Linked DNA regions of Homo sapiens. The protein of the gene in region 1 purifies or fractionates together with the protein of each later gene. This does not show direct contact. Each region holds a gene or a part of one and is shown on either strand. Other genes may lie near its edges.

Region 1 (3,705 bases):
CCTAACCTCAAGTGATCCACCTGCCTCGGCCTCCCAAAGTGTTGGGACTACAGGCATGAGCCACCGTACCTGGCCAGAACTTTCATTCATTCATTCAATAGTAATTGAGCACCTATTATGGCCTGGTTGTCAGCATAAACTGATGTTTGAAAATTTTCCACTTCTTTTTATTTTGTGTAGGCACTATCCCCAGCTCAGAGTGTTGGAATCATGGAGATTCACAATCAGACAGGGATGGCTCAAAAATGAATAGATGAAAGTTAGTTAATAAGTTGAGCTCATTGATTTGTGTTTTTTTAAAAAATAATGTATTAGAGGACTTTCACCAAGTTGTTCTTAGGTTACAAGTAGTTATCTATACCACTGAAGAAAGAATCAAAATTATATCCATAATGTGAGCCTCAAGAAGGAGCTTCAACAGTGCAGGGAAAGAAGTCAGGTTTTAATGGTATTGATATGTGAGCAGGACATCCTGACATTGAGGTGGCCAGAAGAAGCCGCTGGAAGGAAGGAATGGGACCACACCACCCAACGCTCTGGGCACATGATGCTCAGGTTATGTGGACTTTTCATTTTTTTTTTTTTTTTTGAGACAGGGTCTCACTCTGTTGCCCAGGTTGCTGGAGTGCAGTGGCATGATCACGGCTCATAGCAGCCTCCAACTTCTGGGCTCAAGCAATCCTCCCGCCTTAGCCTCCAGAGTGGCTGGGACTACAGGCGTGTGCCATGGTGCCTAGCCAACATTGATCTTTTATCCAGTGCCACCACACACACATTAGCACCTCAAAGGTGGGAAGTCAGTCATCAGTCCTCCCCTGTTGTCCCTTGCTCAAGCTGGTGTGTCCCCGTGTTCCGTCTCCTCTCATCTGAACATGCTCCAGCTCTTCACATCTGTCTTCCTGACTGCTGCTTCTTTCTAAAGGAGGTAACCATGGGAGAAAGCAATGGACACTCTCATAAACACACGCACACACACACACACGCATATGAATGCACACGTGTGCACCCACACATGAGCACAGCCACATGCACAAACGCACACGCACATATGCACACAGTATCTATTGTCGGATGAAATCTACCACTGGCCACCACTTCTTCCCATAAGGTTCTAATAAGCCTATTACCAGTGAGCTTGACAGTAATATACTAACTTTAATCCAGAAATCATTTGCCCTTTGAATCGTTTTCAGGGCCACATTTGAGCAAATTTTCCTTTGCTCTTATTCTAAGACTTTGTCTGTGATATCTTATAGCTCCTTCATTCATAAACTCCATGGACAAAATTTCTCACAGGTTCCAGTGCTGCAAAAAGCTGTACTTCTAAGCATTTGAGTTGTTTTTCTCTTAAAGATACTATGCTTCTTATAATGGAGTATTTCTTTCTGTGCAGGAAACTTATGGATCAGATGTCTATTATGGCAACTTTTTATGTAAATTGGAGTTTTAAATCTAATGGGGGAAATAAAATTCTAAATAAATTATATGATAAATTATATAGAAACTAAAGAATCCTTTTATAAAGTGAATAATAACCTCTAAATTATCTTATTTATAAATCCAGGTCAGACGCGCTGGCTCATGCCTGTAATCTCAGCACTTTGGCAGGCCGAGGCAGGTGGATCACCTGAAGTCAGGAGTTCAAGACCAGCCTGACAAACATGGTGAAACCCTTTCTCTACTAAAAAATACAAAAATTAACCGGGCGTGGTGGTGGACACCTGTAATCCCAGCTACACGGAGGCTGAGGCAGAACTGCTTGAACGTGGGAGGTGGAGGTTGCAGTAAGCCAAGATTGCACCACTGCACTCCAGCCTAGGTGACAGAGCAAGACTCCATCTCAAAAAAAAAAAAAAAAAAAAAAGAAGAAATAAAAATCCAGATTTTTATGTATTTGTTTTTATATTTGAAACAACGCTATTAAATGCTACGTAAATGTTTTCATATTTGAAACAATTTTATCATGAATGCCATGACCAAAGTATTCTTCTGTATCTTCTTTCTTACCTTTTGTCATTGATGACTGCTTTTAGAGCATTTTCTAAATCTTCAGAAGTCATTTCCAGAACATTCAGGGTCACTCCAGCTCCCTTAGTCTCCATGCGCTTTGCATTGTCCATCTGATCACCAAACAAGGGCATCATCACCATGGGAACGCCATTGCATATGCTTTCATAAACACCATGGGAACCAGCATGGGTGATAAAGGCACGGGTCATCGGGTGACCTGAGATGCAAAATAGGGAGGATGTCAGCAGTTACATCTCTGAGTTTCACAGCTGGACACATCTAGGTTCTGAAAACACTCCAAAGACTCAGTGTTACTCACATGCCCTTGCAGAAATTTGCAGAAGAAAATGTGGGTTGAGATACCCCACTAGATAAAAAGCAATGTAGGATATGTTGGCCATAATATTTTCAAGCTCAACAATCCTTTAGAATAGCTGTGCTTAAGCCATTTTCTTAATTTGACCCTGGTTTGACCTATACATCCAATCCGCCCAACATACCAAGCAGATCGTTTTGGGGTAGCCACTTAACAAGTATCGTGTTGTTCGCAAGATTCGATGGTCGGGTTCCAGTGTACCGCCACAGGACCTGGGAGGGGCAAAAAGAGCAGAACGTAAAGAAAGAACATAATATGATTAGAAAACAAATCTGCTATACTAACTAGAAAACAGGGGTCCTCTGAAGGAACAGTCTTTAACAGAGTGGGAGGATCAGTAACTGTGAAGGCTTCTGAGGACTGGCAACTTCCGGCATCTTGTTTTGGAGGTTTAGTTACAAGGGTGTATGCACTACGTGAATTTGTGATAATTTATCAAGCTGTGCACTTAGGATTTTTTCACTTTCCTGCACTTTAAGGGAAAGTTTGCTTAATGAAACAAGTGGATGCAGAACTATAAGAGCAGAAATGTAAGACATAAATTCAGTGTTCTAACCAACAGCTTTTTGGAGAAATACTTCTATTTAATATGAAGAAACAATATCCCATTTATTTTATTTTTAAATAAATTCTCCCTAATACACTTTTGAGTCTCTTAGAGAAAATGATACTTCTGAGTGTGGTGGATCATAGTTTAATAGAGTATTTGAGAGTCAAATTGAAAACAATGACAACAACCACAACAACAAAAAAAACCTTTGGATTAATAGTTGGGAAGTGGCAGGGAAAAGCCAAATCTAAGGTTCCAATTAAGAGAATTAATCTGGAAGCTGGAAGTCTGGGATTAGCGCTCCTGTGAAAATAGATATGAGGCCATGGTATAGAATCTTCTTACTGTCTGAGGGATTTTGCCCAAAGCATCAGCAATTGCCATAGCTTTCTTCTCTGGAATTTCTGAGACCATTGATCCCAAAGAGAAAACCACAATTCCATGTTCTCCAGAAGCATTAATGTAGGCTTCAAATTCCTAGAGCCAGAAGAAAAATTTTCAGTTAATTTTTTCTCATATTCTTTGATGACTACATACAGTAAGTTATGAATTAGATATCTTCCTCTTAAGACTATGATTAAAGGCATGCGTGTTTGAGATAGAGTAAAAAATTATTAATATGTAAGTTTTACAGCATTTTCCTCTCCTTTACTTCCTTCTAAAGGAGGAAGGGTTCCTGCTTACAGAATTATCCTTGAGATGCAAAATCCAGGTAATGTGCTAGTTTTCCAAAAGAAAAGCACAGGTACATGCACACACATGCACACAC
Region 2 (3,826 bases), on another chromosome or scaffold:
AGCCTGGCCAACATGGCGAAACCCAGTCTCTACTAAAAATACAAAAATTAGCCAGGTGTGGTGGCATACGCCTGTAATTCCAGCTACTCAGGAGGCTGAGGCAGGAGAATTGCTTAAACCCGGGAGACGGAGGTTGCAGTGAGCTGAGATCGTGCCACTGCACTACAACCTGGGCAACAGAGCGAGACTCTGTCTCAAAAAACAAAACAATGTCCTGACAATTTTTGTTTTGAACTCAAAATATGCCTTTATTTGTGACTTTGCTTGCCCTCGGGGTCTCACCAGGGCTTCGTCTCCAGGTATAATCTGTTAGCAAGTTCTGTAGCTTCTATGTTCAAAGAACACCCAGGCTCTGGTGATGTCACTAACTCTTATGCTACCAACTTGGCCCCAACCTCCCTCCCCAAGTCATTTTCAGACCAGCTCTCCCCATTTCCACCTTCAGCCCCTGCAGTCTATTCTCAGAAACATTCCTTGAAATAGTCAAATAGCATTACCTCTCTGTTCAAAACCCTCTGATGGCTTCTGTTTCACTTTTAGTAAAAATTTATTTAATACAAGCCGTTCTGTGTCCCTTCCACCCCGCTACCTCTCAGTAACTACAGGGTTTCCTTGCAATTTTTCTCACCTCTCCATGTACTCCGCAGACATACACCTGACTTACTCCTTCCCTGCCTTCAGGTCTGTGGCCTCAGCCTCCATGGACCCTTCCCTGGCAGCCCTGATCCCTTCTCCAACATTCCCAACGCCCTTTTCCTGCTTTATTTCTCTTCATAGCACTTTCTAACATTTCTTTTTGAAAGTCTTCCTCACTTTTTCTGGAAAATGTGAGGGCTGGGGATACTGCTGTGTACCACGTCTCCTAATAGTTCTGATTCTAATAATGTGTTGTAAATTTCAGGATGTTTGCATGAATTAAAAACTAAACTGAATACAAGATAAAGAAATGTAATGAAACTGTATTAATGGGCCAACTGAATACCCGAGTATTATCACCTACCGATGCTAACAGCAGGCTGTATCCCAGGCTCTGTGCTCAGCACTTCACATGCAAGCATCTAGTTGAATTCTCACATCAAATTACACAGTACACATTATCCTCACTGAACAGAGGAGGAAACTGAGGCCCAGAGAAATTAAGTGACAGGCCTCAGGTCCAAACACAAATTAGCCACAGAGCCAACACACACCCAAGTCAGCTGGGAGACCAAATTACTATTAAGAATTCTTTCAAGCATGACAAAAGCTAAGCAAATTACTATGAAGTATTCTCTCAAGTATGACAGAAGCTAGGAAGTCAGATAACTTCTTTGCCACTAAAATCATAGCCAGTGAGAGCAGAAAAATATTTCAAACCCATTTCTAGCAATTAAATGGATTTTCATCTTTTAACACCACTAGATAAAAAATCATCAATTATAGCAAAGAAAAATATTTACATGTTTTGTTAACTGTATAGCAGTTTATTTTCTGTTTAAATAAAACATACTCAGAAGATTAATGATCACATTTACCTGCAGAAGTTTAAAAAACTCATCTTTCAGCTGATTTTCATCTAGGTCTTCAATAGTTCTTATCAATTGTTGCAGGTGAGTACATAAAGCAATGATGGATTCCTGTGACCCATAGAAATTTTGCTCTTTTGATTCTTTAAATACATCAAAGTAATCGATTGGTGGACTAAAGTAGGAGAAAAACAAAGTGAAACATTTTAGTTTGTACATTTGGATAACTGCAGTTCTTGAAAGAAAATAGCACCATACAGTCTCAATAATCAGTGCTAACAGAAACTAGATATAACATTTATCTAATTAACTAGAAAAACTTAATACTAAATAATCAAATTACACAAAAATCTCTCAAACTCATTTTAATTGTCAAAAAAGTTCCCAAATCAAGTATTTTTCTGGACATATTAAATAGTGATAGTGACTATGCTCATAATTATCTACCTAGCAGGGATTCCAGGGCACAAGAAGGAGAAAGATAAATTTCAAGACAACTGCTTTAGTTCAACAAACATTTTTTAACCACCGATGTGGCAGAGTTCCAGTAACAAATGTATAGAATATAAACAGAATATTTGAATACAATGCAGCAATCATTAACAGAATGAAACACAGAGTATGATGGAAATACAATGAGTACTTAAGATAAATCAGACAATACTATTGTAAGTTTTAGAAGAATGATAATTTTTTATCACTAATTTTAGGTATTTTTGGGCAACTTTAACCAAAGGTGATATATGTGGCATGGCTACACCTTCATGTTTTCCAGTGAGAGATTAAATCATATTATATTGGCCTAAGAAAATCATAACTAAGGAGATATAAATACTAATATAATAATCTTTACTGAATTGAATATAAAAGACATTCAGATTATTGGGTCTTCCAAATTAGCTACTTTTTCCATGGGTCATTCATGTTAGGGTAAAAACAATCTAACACTGATGTAATCGGCTTGATTTGTTTTGTTTTGTTTTTTTAAATAACATACCAGTATTTAAACATCCAAATGATGGCTGCCTCCTTCCAGCCAGTCAGTCACCTCGGGAAGCTACACCCTTATTCCAAGGGCGCTGCCATTGCTCAGAGCACTTTTGGAATTCCTCTTTAGGAATTTTCTTCAGAACCTATGGCACATCATTAAACCTCCTGTCAGTGATCACATATCTTCATCCTTTGGAGTCAATTTATTTTTGGAAACAGCCAAAAGTCACTCGGAGTGATTTCAGTAGAATGAGGTGTGTGATCAAATTGGATAAAAACTTTTTTTTTAATCAAAAATGAGTAAAAATACAGGAAGACTAATTTTCATTTTGAGGCATGTAAACTGGCTCTGAAAGAAGTTCCAAATAATTCAAAGATGGTTTTAGCAATGGCAGCACCGCTGAAATCAGTCAGTCTCTCAAGGTGACTTAAAAGGATAAAAATCATTCGGATGCACAGACCCAATCCGGCCCACCACCTGTTCTGTCTGACTCACATGCTAAGAGTGGTTTTTATATTTTTGAATGGCTGAAAACAAAGTGAAAGAAAAGTAGTATTTTGTAACACATGAAATTCAAATTTCGGTGTCCGCTGAATAAAGTTTCTTTAGAACACAGCCATGCTCATTCTTACATATTATTTAAGGTTGCATTCACACGACAATGGCAGGTTCGGCAGCTGCAACAGAGACCACATGGCCCCTATGCCTAAAAGATTTACTACCTGGCCCTTTACAGAAAGTTCTAATAAAACATGTTCTAATGTTTTATTAACAAACCATTCATTAAAGTCACATCTCATATTAAGAATGAGCCTTATTTTCGTATTTAAGAGAGTAAACTCACATAACTATATATAAATTCTCATTTTAGAATGTTTTCTATTTTAGAATCTACTAAAGCTGTGTATGTACACACACTATGACCCAGTGATTCACTTCTAGGGAGGGATATATCCAACAGATGTATTCATACATATGTTCAGCAAAAAAGTGTCAGAATGTTTATAGCAGCATTCTTCCTAACAACTCCAAACTGAAAAGTACTCAAATATCCATCACAACGAAGTAAACAGATTGTAATATGCTCATAAAATGCAATATTATAAAGCAATGAGAATGAATGATCTATAATTATATTGTAACATATGGATGAGTCTCACAAACATAAAAATGAGTGAAAGAAGCCAGACACAAAACTATACACTGTATCATTTCATTTCAGTAAAGTTAAAAAACAGGCAAAACTAACACAGGTCAGAACAATGGTTATCCTTGAGGAGTAATGAAGGCAGTGACTGGAAAGGGACTCAAAGTGGACTTTTGGGGTCTG

What was found.
Region 2: the proteins of UGT1A3 (region 1) and DCPH1 purify together in Homo sapiens (affinity purification with mass spectrometry; one large-scale study listed by BioGRID and IntAct). This does not show direct contact.

Annotation. Positions count from the first base shown.
Region 1 is NC_000002.12:233,766,742-233,770,446, reverse strand, and holds part of UGT1A3 (UDP-glucuronosyltransferase 1A3 precursor), read right to left. Parts: intron 3,414-3,705; coding exon 3,282-3,413; intron 2,599-3,281; coding exon 2,511-2,598; intron 2,228-2,510; coding exon 2,008-2,227; intron 1-2,007. Other genes in the region: UGT1A1 (UDP-glucuronosyltransferase 1A1 precursor), read right to left, coding at 2,008-2,227, 2,511-2,598, 3,282-3,413; UGT1A4 (UDP-glucuronosyltransferase 1A4 precursor), read right to left, coding at 2,008-2,227, 2,511-2,598, 3,282-3,413; UGT1A5 (UDP-glucuronosyltransferase 1A5 precursor), read right to left, coding at 2,008-2,227, 2,511-2,598, 3,282-3,413; UGT1A6 (UDP-glucuronosyltransferase 1A6 isoform 1 precursor), read right to left, coding at 2,008-2,227, 2,511-2,598, 3,282-3,413; UGT1A7 (UDP-glucuronosyltransferase 1A7 precursor), read right to left, coding at 2,008-2,227, 2,511-2,598, 3,282-3,413; UGT1A9 (UDP-glucuronosyltransferase 1A9 precursor), read right to left, coding at 2,008-2,227, 2,511-2,598, 3,282-3,413; UGT1A10 (UDP-glucuronosyltransferase 1A10 precursor), read right to left, coding at 2,008-2,227, 2,511-2,598, 3,282-3,413; UGT1A8 (UDP-glucuronosyltransferase 1A8 precursor), read right to left, coding at 2,008-2,227, 2,511-2,598, 3,282-3,413.
Region 2 is NC_000006.12:151,462,307-151,466,132, reverse strand, and holds part of DCPH1 (damage-control phosphatase ARMT1), read right to left. Parts: intron 1,681-3,826; coding exon 1,515-1,680; intron 1-1,514. UniProt on the Homo sapiens protein: Metal-dependent phosphatase that shows phosphatase activity against several substrates, including fructose-1-phosphate and fructose-6-phosphate.